3 separate regions of the Homo sapiens genome follow, and all the other regions are reported to be linked to region 1. The links are microRNA targets in miRTarBase. Many come from high-throughput screens and were not tested one by one. Region 1 holds a microRNA gene; each other region holds the end of a gene's coding sequence.
The links. The annotated mature microRNA hsa-miR-4455 reads AGGGUGUGUGUGUUUUU and lies in region 1 at 2,478-2,494, shown strand. An mRNA with a match to its seed (bases 2 to 7 or 8) in the 3' UTR can be bound and repressed. Matches are read on the target gene's strand: a 7mer-m8 pairs with bases 2 to 8, a 7mer-A1 pairs with bases 2 to 7 and ends in A, and an 8mer does both.

Region 1 (7,201 bases):
TCACTGGATTCTGAGACCTGCAGTCCTCTCCGTCTTCCTTAGCTCAGAATGCTGTCAACCTAGCCAGGCAATTATCCTCCAGGCAAGAGACTAAAAAAAGTCCTGTGGGGATCTGACCAGCCCAAGAAGATCTTACAGATACTGATTATGAGTTTCCCGTGAAACAGTTCGGCCAGCTCAGCCCAGGGTGAAGTTCACTGTTAACGACCCACATACTCAGTTTCCTCTTGCTCTTATGAGCACGTGATCATGGATTCGAGCCACGTGAGGAAAATTCTAAGTGAAAGATCCAGACCAAGACAAACCAATGTAAAAAACAATGTGGACAAAACAGAGCAGCTCTTTTAAAAACTTACCAGTACTAGCTCAAGAGACACGAAGAGATATTTCACCCTTGGAACAGCAATAGAATGACACAAAAATGAGACTTTTGAAGAACGAGGAGCTTTAAACATTTAGAACCATTCTAGAAAATGTTTAAAGCTTACTTAATAAATTGAAAGATAAAATTGAAGAACTCTCCCAAAAAGTAGAGCAAAAAAAAAAAAAAAAAAAGAACAAATTAAAAAATTAGAAGACTAGTCCAGGAGGTCCAATATCTAAATAATAGGAGATTCAGAAAAAGAGAACAGAAAAAAATGGAAAGGAAAAAATCATTCGTTAATATTTTGGTAAGTAATTTGAACAGTTTCCCAGACAAGAATGATGTAAGCTTTTAGACTGACGCATGGTAGATAAAAACAGACATAAATCAAGGCATGTCACTGGGAAACTTTAGAACTGCTGGGATAAAGAAAGGATCTGAGAAGATTAAAGGATACAAAGGATCAAATCAGAATGTCATCAGGCTTCTCAACAGTAATGGCAGAGGCTAGAAGACAAGACAGCAAGGCCTTCAAACATTTGAAGAAAAATAACTACTATCTTAGAATTCTTTTTTTTTGTTGTTTGTTTGTTTGTTGAGACAGAGTCTCGCTCTGTTGCCCAGGCTGGAGTGCAGTGGTGAGATCTCGGCTCACTGCAAGCTCCGCCTCCTGGGTTCACGCCATTCTCTTGCCTCAGCCTCCCAAGTAGTTGGGCCACAGGCGCCTGCCACCACGCCCGGCTAATTTTTTGTATTTTTAGTAGAGACGGGGTTTCACCGAGTTAGCCAGGATGGTCTCGATCTCCTGACCTCGTGATCTGCCCACCTCGGCCTCCCAAAGTGCTGGGATTACAGGTGTGAGCCACCCCACCCAGCCAGAATTCTATACATAGTCAAAATATCAATTAAGGGCTGGGTGTGTTAGCTTACACCTGTAATCCTAGCACTTTGGGAGGCCAATGTGGGCGGATCACCTGACGTCAGGAGTTCGAGACCAGCCTGACCAACATGGTGAAACCCTGTCTCTACTAAAAATACAAACAAATTAGCCGGGCTTGGTGGCGGGCGCCTGTAGTACCAGCTACTTGGGAGGCTGAGGCACAAGAATCACTTGAACCTGGGCGGCGGAGGTTGTAGTAAGCCAAGATCACGCCATTGCACTCCAGCCTGGGCGACACGGCGAGACTCTATCTCAAAAAAAAAAAAAAAAAAAATCAATTGAGTATGAGGATTGAATAAAGACATCTTAGAAAGGCAATGTTCCAGATATTGTATTTCCTATGCACCTTTATTCCTTCATAGTAGGAAGTTGCTAAAAGATATGCTTCACCAAGATAAAGGAGTAAATCAGGAAAGAAGACGTACAGGAAACAGGAGATCCAACATGAGAGAAGTGAAGGGAATTCCCAGGAAGATGGAGAAGTCCCAGGTTGACAGTTTGGCCCCAGTTGTTGAGAACGGTCTAGACTAGGGGTCCCCAACTCCTGGGCTGTGGACTGGTACTGGTCGGTGGCCTGTTAGGAACCGGGCCACACAGCAGGAGATAGATGACAGGTGAGTGAGCATTACTGCCCGAGCTCAGCCTCCTGTCGAATCACTGGTGGCATTAGATTCTCACAGGGGCATGAACCCTACTCTGAACTGCACATGCGAGTGGTCTAGGTTGCATGCTCCTATGAGAATCTAATGCCTGATGATCTAGGGTGGACCAGTTTCATTCCAAAACCATCCCCCATTGTCTGTGGAAAAATTGTCTTCCATGAAACCGGTCCCTGGTGCCAAAAAGGTTGGGGACTGCCGATCTAGACTGAAGTATGTTGGAGAATCTGGGAGAGATTTTGTGAAGATTGGATTGATAAGATATGTGATGCTCTGACTGTCTTAAGAGGATGTTTGTATAATTAAGTGAGTTTGTGTTTGAATTAGTGATAAGCATCAATAATAATAATAAAATTTTAATCCAGGGAAGCAAAGAGTGGCTAGGATAGGAAAAGTCATTATAGTTTGATGCATGGCTTAGTTTAGTATTTTCATGGTTGTAATCATATAAATGCTCAACAAAGAGCTAACAAAAATTATGATATAACCAGATTAGAAAGATAAGCAGATGAGAAGGGTGTGTGTGTTTTTCCTGAGAATAAGAGAAGGAAGGACAGCCAAATTCTTCATTTGCAAAGGGATAAGCCAATAGATGAATGCATAAAGCTGAAAAATCAAGGAAAGCAATATAAGCATTTTATTTAGAGATGTAGAGGTTACTGACAATAGCATTAGCTAAGATAATTGAAAGTGGTGTTTCTGGAGAAGAGGCAAGGAGCAACTACTATTTGTGTTAATGAACATTGTAGAATTGTTTGGCTCTATAAAATTCATGCTTGTATTACTTTAATAAAAGTTAAAGTAAAAATATAAATAAACAGCAAAAAGCTTGCATAGCACGCCACTCTAAACTAATAAATGAAACTAAGTGATGAACATTTTATAGCATCTGATTTCAATCAGCATCATTTGAAGCGCTTTGAGTGCAGAGTCAGCTCAGCATCTATCCCGGAAGAAAAGCTCGGCCCTGGTGCTGACAGACACAGAGAGGAAATGGAAAGCAGCACCCCGCGGAGTGGCAGAGGGCATGGCTGGATAGGAGCATCTGTCTGCGTTCATCATTAGACGCCAGATGTAACCTGGAGTTTCAGCATTAAATGTTTATATGAAATGATGCCGAGGTGGAAATTTTGCCTTATAAAGTAGCTTATCTTGGGAACAGAGAGTACTATAAAAAGATGAATAAACGATTAAATCAAGGTCCAGACATGAGCTGATTTTTCTTAAAAGCAGTATCTTTACAACTTCAGAGTTTGAACTCTCTGATGTGGAACCAAGCCAAAAATAGCACAAAGAAAATATTGACCATGAGAGTGGTGACCTGGCAAGCTCAACACTGTCCACCTGTTAATCACTTGTCCCTGTTGATTTCAGCTTATGACTGCATACTTTCTAGCCTAATCCTACTGTTGGTATACTCAGGTGCAATAGAAGTTAAAGAGTGAATAAATCAACCTACTAAAAGAGATTCATGGGCACGGGGTGGGTGGAGAACAAACATATTACATTCCAAAATTCCTATGGCTCAAAGGATCAACTACTAAACAAAGCATGTACACCTGAGCCACTGTGGGAGCCAGCATGAAACACTTCCAAGGAATGAATTCAAGGAATGCAATTAATTCCCAAGCTCTTTTTCCCCAAAACTCTATTTTTGTTTCAAGCTAGCATTCCCATACTCTGTTCAGACTTTAATTCCATACTGTAATCTGTCCAGCTTTGGTAACCACCCAGCTGTAATTTGAACTGGCTGGTCAACAAACCAAACACCATCAAAGATTCTCATTTGTCTTGCTAAAGTCAAAAACACTGAAGATATTTAAATGTAAATATAATCTTTTACTGATCACACAATCTCAGGGAACTTTTCCCCCTTTGCATAGTGTCACAATTGGGGTTCAAATTGTGAAGACCAAATGTGTAACTTATACAAAAGTAATCACAATAGTTTGTTGCAATAGAAATGAGCTGTTCTGTGCATTGCTGACAAGCCACTTTTTAAAGTTTACTTTTAAATGTATGTATAGTAAAATTCACTCTTTTTGGTGCACAGTTCTTCAAGTTTTAACACATACATAGATTCAAGTAATTACCACCACAGAGAGGATACAGGACAGCTCTATCATCCTATACACCCTCGTGCTGCCCCACCTGGAATCCCTGGGAACCACTGATCCATCCTCTGTCCCTAGTCCGACCTTTTCCAGAGTGTCATATAAATGAAGTAATTTGGGATGTAGCCTCTTGTGCCTAGCTTCTTTCACTTAGCATAATATATTTGAGATTCACCCATATTATCGTATCATATTGATACAGCTCTGATGAATGGAGGAATACCAGGTTCTTCCTCTCGAGTTGAATTGGAAAAAACGACACGGACACACCTGGTGTGATTTTAAGGAGCAGAGAGTTTAATAGGCAAGAAAGATGGGAGAAGTCAGAAGGAAGAAGCTCCTCCATACAGAGACAGAGGGAGGGGGGCTCCAAAGCTGAAAGAGGAGACCCCACATGCCAGGATACCAGCCAGCTATATGAAGAGGCTGGAGGAGATGGTGTTTGATTTGCACAGGGCTCAGGGGATTGGTTTGACCAGGTAAGTCATTCATGTAGCCCTCGAAAAAAACTGACCCTCCCACCCTAGTCTTTTAATATGCAAATGCAGGGTGCCATGATGTTCTACATACTTGGGGATATGTGGGGGCAGCCATGTTGCCAGGAACGTGTGGGGCAAGGGCAAGAGGACAATGATGGGAATCGCCATGTTGGGTGGATCCAGTTTCTAATGGCTGGCGTTTGCATACTAAAGGTTGCCAGCTCAGCTCTAAGAGCCGGAGCTTTTCTGCTAGACAAGAAACGTTTTTGGAGGTGCTTTAAAAGAAATGAAAACTTCCCAAGGACCCCTTCTCCTCTCTATCTGCCTAAAATAATTTCTTAGTAACTCCTACAACAATATGTTTATGAATGCATGTGTGTATATACATGCATGTTTGTGTGTGCTTATATGTATATGTAACATATACATGATATATAACTTTATTATCATATATATAAGCTTTTAATTTTGAGGTAATTATAGAGTCAGAGGAAGCTGCAAAGACAATACCAAGTGGTCCCTTGTACCCTTCAGCCAGTTTCCTCCAATGGCTACATCTTATACAATTACAGCATGCCATCAGGAGCAGGACATTGATGCTGACATTGTAGGAGTGGAGGGAAAACTGCCGCTTTGCCCTCTGAATGTTTGCTGAAAATCAACTGACAGAAGGCAGATTAATAGGAGAAAAGGGATTATGGTGGCTCACACTTGTAATCCCAGCACTTTGGGAAGCTGAGGCGGGTGGATCGCTTGAGCCCAGGAGTTTGAGACCAGCCTGGCCAACTATGGTGGAATCCCGTCTCTACGAAAAATACAAAAATTAGCCAGGCGTGGTGGCGCGTATCTGTAATCCCAGCTACTGGAGAGGCTGAGGCAGGAGAATTGCTTGAGCCTGGGAGGCGGAGGTTGCAGTGAGCCAAGACGGGACCACTGCACTCCAGCCTGAGCAACAGAGTGGGACTCCGTCTCAAAAAAAAAAAAAAAAAGGAGGAAAGGCATGCACATTTATTTAATCAGAGTTTTATGTGACATAAGAGCTCAAAGATACAGGGGAAACCATCCATTTTTATGCTTAGGTATGGGCAGCCGTGTAGAGATACTATTGGACAAAAAGGGTAACATCTAATGCTGAGAGACTGAGTAGGGAAACCCGGCGAGGCCTGTCTGTCCGGATTCTTCTTGGCCTCTCTGGGCAGCATTCTTTCTTTCTGGGTGTGGGGCAGGGCCCTCTCTGGAATGGGGTTCTCATGACCTAAAGTCAAACAAGGTGGGTCAGATAATTTCCTTATGTCCAGTTTTTACACAGAAAGGCCACTTGGGTAGGAGGGATTCTAGTTTCCATGACTAGCTTCAGGGGAGAATCAGGGGCCAGTGACAGGAAGACCGGAGAAGGTGAGAGAGAGCTGCTTCTGAGGTCTCCCTTTGGGGTGCCGTTTTCTGAGCCCCAACAATATCATGTTTGCCATTTTATCACATGTGCACGTTCCCATAACCCCACCTCAACCAGTATCAGAACCGCCTCCACCACCACTGACATCTACCCCGTGCGTCGCCTCTGTAGTCTCTCTACTCCTTCCTTCCCCGCCACTTATAGTCCCTGGAAATCACTAATCTGTTCTCCAATTCAAAAATGTTACCTAAGTGGAATCACACAATATGCAACCTTTGAGATTTGTTGATTTCACTTAGTGTAACACCCTTGAGAAGTTGCTGTATGTATTCCTAGTTCATCCCTCTTTATTACTGGGTATATCTCATTGTATGTATTTTCCAGTTCGATTTCACATTCACCTGTTAATGGACAGTTGGATTGCTTCCAGTGTTTGGCAATTATGAATAAAGCTGCTATAAATATTTGCATACAGATTTTTATGGAAACATACATTTTCATTTCTCTTGGGTGATACCTAGGAGAGGAATGGCTGAGTCATATGAAAAGTGAATGTTTATCTTTAAAAGAAACCACTAAGCTGTTTTCCAAACTGGTTGCACTATTTGCACTCCCCAGCAATGTGTGAGGGTTTTACTTAGCTGCTTCCCATCTGTACCAGCACTTGGTAATGTCAGGGGTTTTGTTTTTGTTTTTAGACATTCCGCTAGGTGTAAAGAGGTATCTCCTTGTTTTAATTTGCATTTATCAGGATAAATTTGAAATAAGAAAAAAGAAACCTCACTTTGAAGGGATATTACCTTGATTTCCCTACTTCATGTTTGTATTATTACTTAGCAGAGAATCTAATAAAGATTCTGAGGAGTTGCCTCTCCCCGCAACCGCCCCCACCCCAGCCTCAGAAACCTGAAAATGGAAGTCATCAAGACAGTTGTCTGCTGTTTTCAACAACGGATAATCACTGCTGTCAACTAGTTTGTAGGCTGAGTGAGAAAAAAAAAAAAAAGCTGATCTAGTTCATTATAATTTACTTTAAATAAAAAAGCAATTTTTCTTCTAACTTCACACAAAATGTGTATTCTAGAGGCACTGTGTGAATATAATTTATATTCCTTGAATTTCATTCCAAGAGCACTGGAAATGCTTGATGTTTTGAGGACTTTACAGAGGAATTCATCTGTTATAAAAGGAAACTGCCAGGTGTGATGGCATGCACCTGTGTTCCCAGCTACTCAGGAGGCTGAGGTGGGAG
Region 2 (7,187 bases), not on the chromosome of region 1:
TATTTAATCCTATTACGGGCCGGGCGAGGTGGCTCATGCCTGTAATCCCAACACTTTGGGAGGCTGAGGCAGGTGGATCACCTGATGTCAGGAGTTCAAGATGAGCCTGGCCAACATCTTTAGTAGAGATGGCAAAACCCCATCTCTACTAAAAATACAAAAATTAGCTGGGTGTGGTGGCGCACACCTATAATTCCAGCTATTAGGGGAGGCTGAGGCAGGAAAATCGCTTGAACCCAGGAGGTGGAGGTTGTGGTGATCCGAGATCATGCCACTGCACTCCAGGCTGGGCAACAGAGTGAGATTCTGTCTCAAAAAAAAAAAAAAAAAAATCCTATTACAAAGCCAAGATTTCTCCATGGGTTCTTATCAGCTGGGATATGGCTTTTGGAGGAGTGTGGTAACTTCTCTTCCCTCAGAGAATCTAGGTATCCTCTCTTCCCTCAGAGAATCTAGAGAGTCATGCTTTTTGGGGCCTTGCCCAGATGTTCAGATGTGATTGGTTAAGTCCATTGACCTGGCTTTTGACATACACGAATCCCCAGAGGGAATTTTCAACAGGAGAGTTAACTCTGAGGATGTCACTTGACATACAATTGCCAGTAAATGCTGCTTGGGCCACGTTTTCATTGTTCCCTAGCCTATTTTTCTAAAATTACCATTTTTAAAGCACTGTCCCCTGGGTTATCCAACTTAGGATAGACCACCAGCACCTGGTCTCAAAGTCTCTCTTTGCTTTATTCTGCAGGAAAAACTCTGATGAGGCTGACCTGGTCCCTGCCAAGGAAGCCAATGTCAAGTGCCCACAGGTTGTCATATCCTTCTATGAGGAAAGGCTGACGTGGCATTCCTACCCCTCGGAGGATGATGACAAAAAAGATGACAAGAACTAACGCTCCTGAGTACCAGCCCCTGTCACATCTGACTGTGGGTTTCAAGTGGGAAGGGAAGGAGTTCTACTTGTCTTGACACCATAGAGGTGGCTTGAGAAGATGTCCTTTGAAGAGCCAGTATAGTTTCTGTGCCCTGCAGCAGCCCAAGTGCTTTAAAGCCGTTTCAAGCTGTATAGTTTGCACACCCATCCCAGTGGAGGGGAAAGGGGATAAGTGTTTCAAGGCAACCTTTTCTGCACTTTGCTGCGAAAAGCAAAGGGCCTTCTATGAAGGACAAAACTTGCAGAATTGGGTGTGTGGGAGAGCAAAAAAATACTGTAGATCTTCAAAGAGCATCTCCACAACCCACAGCCTTCTTCCCAATAGTGTTAACTCTGCATTTTTACAGCGTAGCATGTGTGTAGTTTTTGGCTATTACTGGTGTATTATTTGGGGGAGGGAGGGATGGGGAGGGGAGAAAGGGAGATGGGTAGCATCATTTTGATTAACATTTGGGGCCTGATAGGGGAAATGGTGAAGCAATGGAAAAGAACAGACAACTAATGATTTGCTTCTATGTCCAGAATATTTTACCTTTAAAAAAATGTCATTGGCACCATAAATAAGGACTGTGAGAGACTGTTTAAAAGCTGTGAAAGTCTGAAACCTATAAGCCAAGGTGTTCCCTGCCTAAACTTATTGCTGTTCCCACAAAGGACTAAGCCTGTTCATAAGTTACCAAAGTTGCCATTTTGGAGATGGAAATTGACGAGGAGGGAAGGTCTTTTATTGGAGAGTATACAGTACAAGCAGATCATTCTGCCTTAGAGGTGCTAATTCCCGAAATTAGAAGACCCTTTCTTTTCCAGTAACGAAGTTATAAATATCAGCTTGTTCATCCAAGCCACTGGCTGAGGTGTTAGGAAGAGGAAGAGGGTGGTAGAGGAGGTAAGACAGTAGGGAAAGACAAGGGCCCATGCTCTTAGTGGGGAAAACTCTTGGAGCCGTTTACTTTGAGCTTTGAACACTGAAACCATTGTTGGCAGGGTTCAGTCACTGACAGCACAAGTTTCACTGAATTGATCCAAGAGTTTAGTGATTTCAAAAGCCTTGGTCTCAGGAGAAGATTAAACTTTCATATTGGGCAGTGGTTCACTTTAAAACACACACATACACACACAAAACAATTTTTTAAGAAATCCTAATAAGTAACATACCCAAAATGCTCTGTCTTGAGTCATGAGAACCATCAGTTCTTGATATTGTCTAGACTTGCATCTAGAGCTACGTTGTAAAATTCTTTTAGGCATGTGTTAGATTTCTGTGTAAACTTTGTTTAAATGTAAACTTCATACTACATTGTCAGTTTTTGTCTTAATAAAACTATAGATTTATAATCCCTGATTTCTGTCTTAAGTCTTACCAGGAACCCTTCTTGCCTTATAGGTTCAGCCTGTTGGAAATGGCTTCCTCACTTGAATGGTTTTATTTCTTGAACACTGTAGGCTTGAAAATCTAGTGCCTGGCCTGAATCTTTAAGTGGTCACACCATGTTAATTTAGTAAATACTTACTGGGCATTTATCAGTTGCTGCAGAGGTTGTAAAGATGGTCGCATCATGCTGTCTTCAGTACTGCCAAAAGTTTATTGAGCACTCTGACCTGATAGCACTTCCAAACTATGGTATATTTGGAAACATGGGTTTTTAAGTTAGGTTTAGATCCTGCCTATGGTATGTAATAGATTATATGACCTTGGCTAAAATCTACTTCTCCAAAATTTTCCAGGAATTTGGCCCTGTGTTTGCGCACTGATTTAAAACGTCATTTTCTGCCTATGATTTTTTTTTTTTTTTTTTGAGATGGAGTCTTGCTGTCACCCAGGCTGGAGTACAGTGGTGTGATCTCGGCTCACTACAACCTCTGCCTCCCAGGTTCAAGCGATTCTCCTGCCTCAGCCTCCAGAGTAGCTGGGACTACAGGCGCGTGCCACCACACTTGGCTAATTTTTAAATTTTTTTAGTAGAGATGGGGTTTTGCCATGTTGGCCAGGCTGGTCTCGAACTCCTAACCTCAGGTGATCCACCTGCCTCGGCCTGCCAAAGTGCTGGGATTACAGGCATGAGCCACTGTGCCTGGCCTTGGACTTGCCTTTATTTTTTTTTATTTTTTTTTTTTTAGTCTTGCTCTGTTGCCAGGCTGGAGTGCAGTGGTGCGATCTCAGCTCACTGTAACCTCCGCCTCCTGGGTTCAGCGATTCCCCTGCCTCATCCTCCTGAGTAGCTGGGACTACAGGCGTGCACCACCACACCCGGCTAATTTTTTGTATTTTAGTGGAGACAGGGTTTCACCATGTTGGCCAAGATGGTCTTGATCTTCTGACCGCATGATCCGCCCGCCTCGGCCTTCCAAAGTGCGGGATTACAGGAATGAGCCACCACATCCGGCCAACTTGTCATTTTTGTAACAGACATAGGATTTCCACTGAGAACAAATCAGTGTAACAGTTGAGTACTACTCACTCGTGCAAAGCATTTGTTTAAAATAAACTGATGTGTAGATAATTTTTTCAGAAAGCCTCCTCAGGAAAGTTCTCAGGAGACATAAGTGGAGCTGGGGAGCCTTACTGAAGGTCTGGGTCACAGACAGGCCTTCCCGCACAGAGGTCTGAGTGTGTGCCCTGGTGGTGGTTGACAGTAGCACAGCAGTCGGTAGCTAATTAAGGGAGTTTAAGTGGAGGTGTTCTGGTTCTGTTCTGCACCATCAGATGCACTGAAATGAAACTACAGCCTTGGTTTGTATCCCAAATGGACTGCTAGTCAGCTTTGGTCTTAACCTTTGGAACTGACTGACTTGTCATTTGTGGCATTCCTGAGCTGTTGTAAAAACTGTATCATTCTCCCCCAGAGAAAACAGTAATACTGATAGGCATGCAGTGAAAACTGAGTTGAAGCTAGGTAGTCACAATTTTGTTATTTTCAAAAGCCAATTGGCATATTACTAGATCAGTAGTTTAAGGATCAACTTTTTTGATTGTTGAGGCCACAAATTCAAACTGTTATAAGTAGGCACAACAAATCTTAGGTCAGCTTGAGAAAGTATTCAGAGAATATTTCTTTGTTTTTTGTTTTTTCTTTTGAGACAGAGTCTCGCTGTCACCCAGGCTGGAGTGCAGTGGCACAATCTCAGCTCACTGCAACCTCCGCCTCCTGGGTTCAAGCGATTCTCCTGCTTCAGCCTCCCGAGTAGCTGGGACTACAGGCATGCCCCACTACACCTGGCTAATTTTTGTAGTTTTGGTAGAGATGAGGTTTCACCATGTTGGCCAGGCTGGTCTCGAACCCCTAACCTCAAGTGATCCACCTGCCTTGGCTTCCCAAAGTGCTGGGATTATAGGCGTGAACCACCACTCCCAGCCAAAGAATATTTCTTCAGGCAGTGGAAAAACATGTTTGTTGGGTGGTTTCCATGAAATTGCACCATCATAGACCTGCCCAGGAATTAAAGAGGCAATAAATTATCTTAGTTACTATTAGAAAAGGGGAGCTTGTTAATATTGTGACATCATTATTACCTGAGGTGTCCTGTACTGGTAGAGCCATTAAACAAAAATCTTGCTCCTCCATTGCCTTAAGTAAGTTTCTATTTAGTATTGTAAATGGATGGAATAATGACCACAGAAACACTCTGACAGTGCTGAGGAATAATTGTTCCTGCATTTAATATCATTTGAAAATTTTGACGACCAATTTTAAGTGATTTTTAGTAATTAAATTTTTATTTATTTTTTTGAGGAGAGAAATGGTCTCTGTCACCTAGTCTAGAGTGCAGTGGTGCTACCATGGCTCACGGCAGCCTCATCCTCCTGGGCTAAAGGGATCCTCCCACCTCAGCCTCCTGAGCTGGGACTACAGGTGTGTGCCATAATGCCCAGCTAATTCTTTTTTTCTTTTTTTTTTTTTTAACTTAGTAGAGATGGGGTCTCACTGTGTTGCCCAGGCTGGTCTCGAACTCCTGGGCTCAAGCAGTCCTCCTGTCTCTGCCTCCCAAAGTGTTAGAATTACAGGTGTAAGCCACTGCACCTTGCCTAATTAAATTTTTAAATACCTGTTTTCAGATATGACCTTATATTCCAGAACTCTCAATTCTGTGGTGGCCATAGACTTGGCTCAATTTGATGTTAAACTTGCGCCATTTGGGGTTTGTCTGTGTGCTTGGCACATCTTTATGGACTGTGGCATTGGGAATCTGCATTATAAAGCAATTATTTCTCATAGTAAAAGGGAAAATGATAGCTTGGATTAATGTGCAAGTTGGGTCTTCTGATGAAGATATGTTCTTATTTATAATTTAAAGCTGATAGAACTGAACTAAGTCCAGGCTCAGTATTAGCGTTCAACTTAATAAAGGAGTCTTGGCTTTCAGCACTAGGAAACAATGATCAGGGAGAGGCATCCTAGTGTTTTGGTGTGGGATTACAGGAGTTTGATAGAGGAGAGCTTAAGATCCCAAGACAACTTGTCAATCTGTGGATCTGCACATCACCTTGTTTTGACGATGTCCAGCACTGAGGTTTTTTCCCCAAAAGTTACTGCTTTCCTATCTAGTGTGTGAAGTTTAAAGTTACTTGTTTCTCTTATGGATGACTTAATTGACCTTGGCCTTGTAAGTTTCCTGTTGACTGTTGAATAAACTACTGAATGTTGAAAACAAATGAAATGTGAAATAAAACCATCCTGCTGGGATGAAAAGCACAGTTGGCCCTCCTTTGTGGGGGCAAGCAGAGCAGTGCCTTTTAAAGGCTTTTTGTTTTGTTTTTTTTTTCTTAGGCTAATGAAGTGGCAAAAGTGAGGGAAGGCTAAATATCAAGTTTAGAATAGGTGCTGACAATTCAGCTTCTGTAGTTTTTGGTTGTATTAAATAACCTGTTTTACAATATACCAGCAGCACAATTGGGTCTGCCTTGTGACCTTGTTGGTTTGTATGGTGGTTTGTGATAGTACCAAAGCCACTGTTTACCCCAAATGGATTTTTAAATCCTAGTTGACTTTGACCAAGCCTGCCCTTTTTGCTATTTGCATAGTTAGGGTCAGGCTGGGCAACTTTGACGCCTGGCTTTGGGACACTAGCCCATTTCAATTACTGCTTCAGCCCCTAATTGAGAATTGGAAAGTTCAAGTCAACTGTTATTACCCCAGTTACACTTGTGTTTGACACAAAAGGCAGAATGCCAACTCCTTGGTCTATTCTCCACCTCTCCCCAGGTGAACTAGATTTTTTGTTTCCTTAGTTGAAGAGCATCTAGAATTAAGTAAAAAATACTGTGCAACCTATCTCCATTCTGCAGTTTAAGTTAGGCTGGAAAAGAAGCAGCTTTAGGACTGGGCGCAGTGGCTCACACCTGTAATCCCAGCACTTTGGAGGCTGAGGCGGACAGATCGCTTGAACTCAGGAGTTCAAGACCAGACTGGACAACATGGCGAAACCCAAAATACAAAAATTAGCCGGGCATGGTGATGCACGCCTGTATGCCAGCTACCAGGAGGCTGAGGTGGGAGAATAGCTTGAGCCTAGAGGCAGTATTACAGTGAGCCAAGATCGCGCCACTGCACTCCAGCGTGGGTGACAAAGCTAGATCCTGTCTCCAAAAAAAAAACCAAAACAGCAGGCTGGGCGCGATGGCTCACGCCTGTAATCCCATCACTTTGGGAGGCCAAGGCGGGCGGATCATGAGGTCAGGAGATCAAGACCATCCTGGCTAACATGGTGAAACCCCATCTCTACTAAAAATACAAAAAAATTAGCTGGGCGCAGTGGCGGGCGCCTGTAGTCCCAGCTACTTGGCAGGCTGAGGCAGGAGAATGGCGTGAACCCAGAAGGCGGAGCTTGCAGTGAGCCAAGATTGCGCCACTACACTCCAGCCTGGGTGACAGGGCAAGACTCCGTCTCAAAAAAAAAAAAAAACAGCTTTAAGACCTTTGTTGGTATGGTGTATTCAAAAGGGAAGACAAAGACTTCTATCCAGCTAATTTTTGAAAACAGCCCTCTTCTGCAAGGTACCAGATTCTCACACTACTCCAGAGACAATACGTGTACTAAATTCTGTTTCTCGGCTAATTCAGGCAGACACGAACTGAACAGAACAAGGACTAGAACTTGTAAAGTTTCACACATAGTGGTAAGTTTCCCCATAGTCCCCAAATGGCTCATTCTCCACTCCAAAGTTCAGAGCGGGAGGCAAGGAAGATGATTGACTTCTGTGTAATACAGTAAAGGTAAAAAGAAAGGTTATTTTTGGTATATTGACAAAATGACA
Region 3 (7,179 bases), not on the chromosome of region 1:
GACTGTGAAATCCAAATGTCTTGGTGTTTATGTTTGTATCTAATGTAATGCAAAGCAAGAACCAAAAGGAGGAACATGGTTGCTGTTGGAGCATCATCTGATAAGATGGTAAGACCGGCTGAAAAATGAATTAGAATTGAAGCAGAAAGTACAGTGTCCAGTATAAGATATAGAGGCCTTCTTTACTGTGCACACAAAAAGAATAACTTGGATGTCATTAAGAAAGAAAAAGCTAATGAATGCAGAAATCCATTCCATTAACCCATCTGGGGACACCGACCTATTCTTGGGATCTAGAACCCAGATTTGAGCCCTGGCTCACTTTATTCCAAATTATAAGCATATGACTATGGGTAAGTCACCAACTTCTTTAAATGCTGAGAAGCTTTTTTGTCAACCATGTTGAGCTAGTATTCTACCTTATAATGTTGATAAAAGAATTGACAAAGACAATACAGATAAATAAATCTACTTACATATTTTTAATATTTTGGGTTTGTTATGAATATTAAGACTAATCCAACTCTGAGAAATCAGGACCCACTTGGATGCTTGTCATTATATTTTCATTTAAATGACACTTTATCTTCAAGGTGAGTGTTGATCCCAGAAGAATCTGGGAATTTTTGTTTTCTGATTCAGACAGTAGAGAGTAAGTCACTTGACCATTCCACATAAATGGCAGTATTCACCTTAGCATTAGCCATTATCCTTCAAATGGGTTGCCTCCTCAAAGTGGCCCTTTTGCAGAAGGATTGCATCAACATTTATATTTTTTTCCCTAAAGTACTTTGTTACGCAGGTGAGCTTGGGTGATGTAAGTTACAATTAACTCCTTCATCTCCTATCCTGGTTGCTGCCATTCTTCTCTATTTTTGGCCAGGGTGTGGATATTGGTGGAGGAGACTAGACTTCTCTTAGCCCGTGTGAGAGGTAGACATTGAGATCCTTCTGAAATGCATCCAGCCATTCTTGCTTTCTTCACTGTCAAGATAACTTTCAGCACATTATTATTCCATTTAAGCGAGGATACCATATTCCTAAAGGGTGTTTCAGAACCCACACACTGGAAGCAATAAGAAACCCTGCTGCAAAATCATCCTCATCTGTGACTTTCTTCTTTCCCCTTCCTTTGTCCTTAGGGAAGTGTGAAATCGGCTGGGCCTACTACTGCACGGGAGCAGGTGCCACTGCCGCCATGCTGCTGTGCACGTGGCTGGCTTGCTTTTCGGGCAAGAAACAGAAGCACTACCCATACTGAGATGGAGCTACCAAGAGCAGACAGAGGAGAAGATGGGCCAAAGGGGCTTGGAGAGGTCAAAACATCCACCTACCTTCAAAAGGTGGGATAGTAGTTCTAATCCAATACAATGCTAATAAAATGAAACCCGATAAAATCAGGAACATGATATAGGAAGGAAGGATTGTAGGAGATTTGTGGGGGAAAAAAAAGGAGAGTATAGAATGATGGAGAAAAATGGACCAAAGGCTAAAAATATTGCAGGGCATCGGGTGTTTCTATTCCACAGAGTATTGTTAATGTACAACACACACACACACACACACACACACACACACACACACACACACACAACAAATCTACATATACAAACAAGGGTTTGGGTTTTAGTTTTTTTTTTTTAAGGTGAGGACTCAGAAAATCAAAGGGCTAGTAGAAACAGTGTTATGTTGGGAAGCAGGGTACCCCCAAAGATGTTCCCTGTAGGTCACGGCACTCCCAAAAGCACACAAGCACATACAGACATATGCATCCCCACACACGCCTATGCACAAACGTGGATTATCGCACAGACTGGGAGGTTTAGTGGTGCATTTCTCCTCTGTTTTCTTTTTAATATACATTTAAAATACAGTATTATCACTTTATAAAACATACATTAAGCCTAATAAATGGACCAATAAGCCAAACTATCAGTATTTTGTATATCCTGCATAAACTCTAATTTAGTTCCTCAACATATTTTCAGTGTTTATGCAGACCTTTAGAGTTAAGCCTTTGTATTTCCATGTTATTCCACAATATGCAATATTTCTCTGAGTAGCTTCTGCTATGATATTCTTATGAAGAAAAGGGGCAACTTTCTGTCCACTATAGGAGAGAATTCAGCCGAAGATATGAGAGTAATGAGAGACATTTTCCAGTCATTGGATCGTGTTTTCTTTTGTCCATTATTGTACTGTGCTGTACCACATTTATTTCTATATTCATTTTGTAAAAAATTTAAAAGTGCTATTTTGTTTGTATTTGAAAATCTCTGTGAATAAATTCTCTCTTTGATCAATAGCTAGATGAGTCATGGAGTGTTAATTCAGTCATCGGATTTGCTTCTTTAATTTCTCCAATGTAGCTCTTCAACTACTATAGTCCTGTAAAATTTCCTTTTCTCTTTTAAGGCCTCTCATTAATTCACTCACTAATCAACCAGGCATTGTTCTAGGCACAAGTGTATTAAAGATGAGTAAGACAGTTTCTGCTTTCAACGTGAATTCTTTGCAACCAGAATTCTAACTTCCTGCTTGTTACATTTCAATCATAACCAAATTCTGAGGACAGAAGAACTTCAGGTCTGTTTTGTATTAAGTTTGAGAATATGGGTGGTATTCAGATGTGATTTAGGGCAACAAGAGCTAGACTGTGGTTCAGGAGGTGACTGGACTGACAGTCACCAGCATGGTGACACGACTGTTACAGTTGCCAGTGACTTGCTGTTCCTCCAGCTTCTACAAAGTGCTGGGTTTCTTCTGTACTTCTGTGTCAGGGAAAATTTTATATCACTGCCCTTCAGGGATGTTGGCCATTTGAAAAAGCTTATCTCAACAGCCCTGCCCCTCCAGCAGAAAGTCTTCACCAAAGAGAAAGGTTTGGACCCTCACATGGCCCCTTAACAGAACTAGCTCTTTCAGGGCTAGGTGTGATGGCTCACACCTGTAATCCCAGCCGAGGTGGGGAAATCACATGAGGCCAGGAGTTCGAGACCAGCCTGGCCAACATGGCAAGACTCCATCTCTACTAAAAATACCAAAAAAAAAAAAAAATTATTAGCTGGGCATAGTCATGCACTCCTGTAATCCCAACTACTCAGGTTGAGGCACAAGAATCGCTTGAACCCAGGAGGTGGAGGCTGCAGTAAGCCGAGATTGCAACACTGCACTCCAGCCTAGGCAACAGAGCGAGACCCTGTCCCCACCAAAAAAATAAATAAATAATAACAAATAACAAAAACTAGCTCCTTCAGGAGCAAAGATTGCATTCTGAATATTGGATCTAGCCTTTTGTTTAGTAAGCCTGAGATATTGTAGCAAATCCTTAAGAATTCAGTTTCAGTTAGCTTCTACATTCATTGTACTTTTCAGATTTGGCAATTGAACATGCTGGCTATTTATTCATGTAAGTACATTTTCTATGCTATCTATACACATTTATCAATTTAGTTTGAATATCTGACTATTCCACTTGCTTCTGGTACTTTTAATCATTCCAGGATGAGAAGCCATGCTGCTCTGGAAGAACAATACAGGATCTGACCAATAAAATTCTACACTCTGAGGCTTTGTTGGTGTGGAGAAAGTCATTCCACTCTCAGATGCTTAATTCATATTGTGCTGAATGTGATTTGATTGTGTCTCATTGTCTGCTGAGCAGGGGCTTCTCCACTCTGTGGTTTCCGGCAGAGAAGAAAAGATTGCACTTTGCTTCCTCAATTAGCCCATTATTTTCATGTATAGCTGGTGCTTTTCAAATTTCTTTTAACTGCACCTTCCTGTAGAGTAGTGTTGTGACTTCTTAGCTCCCATTATCAAGTTGGAGTTCTCTAGGGAATTCATTAAGATCTAGTTCCTTGGACAGATTTAATGATGACATTGTCATTTTTATGTAGTTCATGTGATTTTAGACATTAGTGAGCCTCACTGGAATAAAAGATCAGCCACTCTACTGGTAAAGTCAAATGACAAACTCTTATATGGCAATGGCAAATTCTGGCTAGTCATATCATTTTTTTTTTTTTTTTTTTTGCTCAAGATGTCCCAGCATTTTAATAGGAACATCTAAGTTATTAAGAATTACATATACTGCTTTTGAAATGAAAATCACAATTCATAAGCTAATAACAATAACAAAGTCAGTGAAAAGTATATATTCACAGCATTCTTACTGATATACACATGAGAGACAATAAAAAGCTCAATTTTCACAACCTTAAAAGCTTTCATTGCTTGCACATGCCTGTGCAGTAAATGGGGAGTTTACCTTGTTTTTAGGAAGAGAAAATGACATGCAAAGAAGTGAATTGATGAAATTTAATTGACTCTAGTCATTGAACACCTGCTACTTGGTAGGTATTCTACTAGACATAAAACGCTAAATAAAATACAGCCCATGCTCTCAAGTCAGTCATAAGCTCATGGAAAAAAATAACAGGAGCATCAGTGATTACCAAATCATATGTCAACTAATTCTCAAAGACAGGGAGGAAGTTCCTCCCAAGTAAAGAATTCTGCACAGACAAATTAAAAAGGTATAAAGAAAGATGAAAGATGATATATTACAATGTTCTGCTCTTCAAAAATCATCATTAAGAAAATAAAAAGATGTGTCAACGACTGGAAAAAGTTATATATCTGGTAAAGAACTTGTATTCTGAGTACATACATGACTCTCTCAAATGAATAATAAAAAGGACAATCCATTTTTAAAGGGTAAAAACATGAATGGGGTATTTCCCAAAAGACAATATACCAGTGGCCAATTACACTGAAAAGGTGTTCAACATCATTAGTTGAGAAGAAAATGAAACTTCCAGAACCACAATGAAATGTTGCTTAACATACACTAGAACAACTAAAACAAAATATTGACAACACCAAATGTTGCTGAGTATGTGGACACATGGCTGGAAAAGCAATAGGTACATTTTTATTAAGTGAACCATAGTAATTCCCTTCCTAGGTATTTGTGCCAAAAAAACAAAACAAAACTATGTTCACAAAAAGATTACATAAGAATGTTCATTTCAATTTTGTTCATAATAACCCTAAACTGGGAGCAACTCAAATGTTCACCAGCACATACATAAATTGTGGTGTATTTAGATAGTGGAATACTACTCAGCAATAAAAGGAATGAACACATGGTATACACATCAACTTGGATGAATCCCACAGACATTCTGTTGAGCAAAAGAAGCACAGAGGAAAATTGATACATGGTCATGGAAATTAGAATAATGGTTACCCTCTTATGTGGGTGGGAGAATTGACTGGTGAGGACGAAACAGGACTTTCTGGGATGAAGGAAATGTTCTACATATTGATTGGAGTGGTGTCCACATGGATGTATACACTTGCCAAAAATCCACTGATAACATGCATTTAAAGACTGCACTTTATCGTGTTCTAATGGCGCCTTAATCAAAGAGAAAAGCATGGAGGGCCTTAAAGGTTAATGGAACTGTGGGTCATCTCACATGGCAGCAGTTGGGGTGCATTTGGGCAGGTGGAAGATGAGGTGGGAGAAGGGCAGGCAGTGCTTTGGGTACCATGCTAAAAGGACCAAAATTTAAAATGGATATTGGAGGCAGTGGGAGGATCTGACATAGGGGAAGATGTGGCATGAACAACTTATGTTTCTTAACTAGATCCCTGGAGGAAGTATTGTGAGACACTGGGTGGCAGAAGTGGGGAGAGAGATTGTTACAGTGTAATCATTCCACCAACAGAAAGCGGAGCATCTACTATGGTCTAAGTGATTGGGAAAAGGAAGTGAACAAATAGGGGGATGTCAAGGTGTGAAATGATAGGGCCAAACTGGGCCAAATTAATAGAGATGGAGAGGCTGGGAAACTATTAGAGAGAACAGGATAAACTCAGTAGGTCCTTGGAATAGAGACAGAGGGAAGGAAGAGAGTTGGGTGGATGAGGGTGCCACAGATAGAGATAAGACATGAAAAGAACATATTCTACAGTGCATACATACATCAAAACATCACATTGTACACAGTAAATATATACAATTATTGTCAATTAAAAAATAACAAAAATAAAGGAATAGACCATCAACCTAAATAAAATTCTATACCCAAGAAAAATCCTTCAAAAACAAAAACAAACTTCAAATAAAAATAAAGGCCTTTTAAGACGCACACAAAAATTGGTGTAATTAAGGACTTGGTATGTGTAAATTACCTGTGAGATATCCAGACACAGATGCTTAGCAGGTAGTTGAAAATTAAGGGCTGAGGCTCAGGAGAAATTTTAGGTATATAATTATGCATTGCTTAATGATGGAGATGTATTCCAAGAAATGCGTTGTTAGGCAATTTTGTCATTGTGGGAACATCATAGAGTGTACTAACACAAACCTAGATAGTGCAGCCTTCTCCACACCTAGGCTGTATGGTATGACCTGTTGCTCCTAGGCTTTAAACCTGTACAGCGTGTTACTGTACTGAATACTGTAGGTGACTGTAACACAATAACAAGTATCTGCGCATCTAAACATATCTAAAATAGAAAGGAACAGTGAAAAAATGGTATAAAAAATTAAAAATGGGCCAGGCGCAGTGGCTCACACCTGTAATCCCAGCACTTTGGGAGGCCGAGGCGGGCGGATCACGAGGTCAGGAGATCGAGACCATCCTGGCCAACATGGTGAAACCCCATCTCTACTAAAAATACAAAAATTAGCAGGCCATGGTGGCACGTGCCTGAAGTCCCAGCCACTCGGGAGGCTGAGGCAGGAGAATCGTTTGAACCTGGGAGGCGGAGGTTGCAGTGACCCAAGATCATGCCGCTGCACTCCAGCCTGGCAACAGAGCGAGACTCAGTCTCAAAAATAAAATAAAATAATAAAATAAAATAAATAAAATAAAATAAAATAAAAAATAAAATAATTAAAAATGGTGCACCCATATAGGGCACTTACTATTAATGAAGCTTACAGGACTGGAAGTTGCTCTGGGTGAATCAGTGAGTGAGTGGTAAGTGAATGTGAAGGCCTAGGATATTACCATACACTAGTGTAGACTTTATAAACACTGTACATTTAGGCTATTATAAATTAATAAAAATATTTTTATTTCTTCAACAATAAATTAACTTTAGCTTACTGTAACTTTTTTACTTTATAAACTTTTTAATTTTAAGCTTTCTGACACTTTT

Region 2: miRTarBase lists CBX1 as a target of hsa-miR-4455. Seed matches in the 3' UTR shown: 8mer at 1,074-1,081.
Region 3: miRTarBase lists LHFPL6 as a target of hsa-miR-4455. The part of its 3' UTR that is shown has no 7-base or 8-base seed match.

Annotation. Positions count from the first base shown.
Region 1 is chr4:184,933,714-184,940,914 of GRCh38, reverse strand. MIR4455 (microRNA 4455) reads left to right here and starts at 2,475; the gene lies at 2,475-2,532. RefSeq lists a silencer at 1-280.
Region 2 is chr17:48,065,141-48,072,327 of GRCh38, reverse strand. CBX1 (chromobox 1) reads left to right here. Exons shown (of 5, transcript NM_001127228.2): 5 at 749-2,269. The coding sequence ends at 893. Among named protein-coding and RNA genes, the nearest start is that of NFE2L1, 20 kb to the right of the region's middle.
Region 3 is chr13:39,338,018-39,345,196 of GRCh38, reverse strand. LHFPL6 (LHFPL tetraspan subfamily member 6) reads left to right here. Exons shown (of 4, transcript NM_005780.3): 4 at 1,143-2,305. The coding sequence ends at 1,261. Among named protein-coding and RNA genes, the nearest start is that of LHFPL6, 260 kb to the left of the region's middle.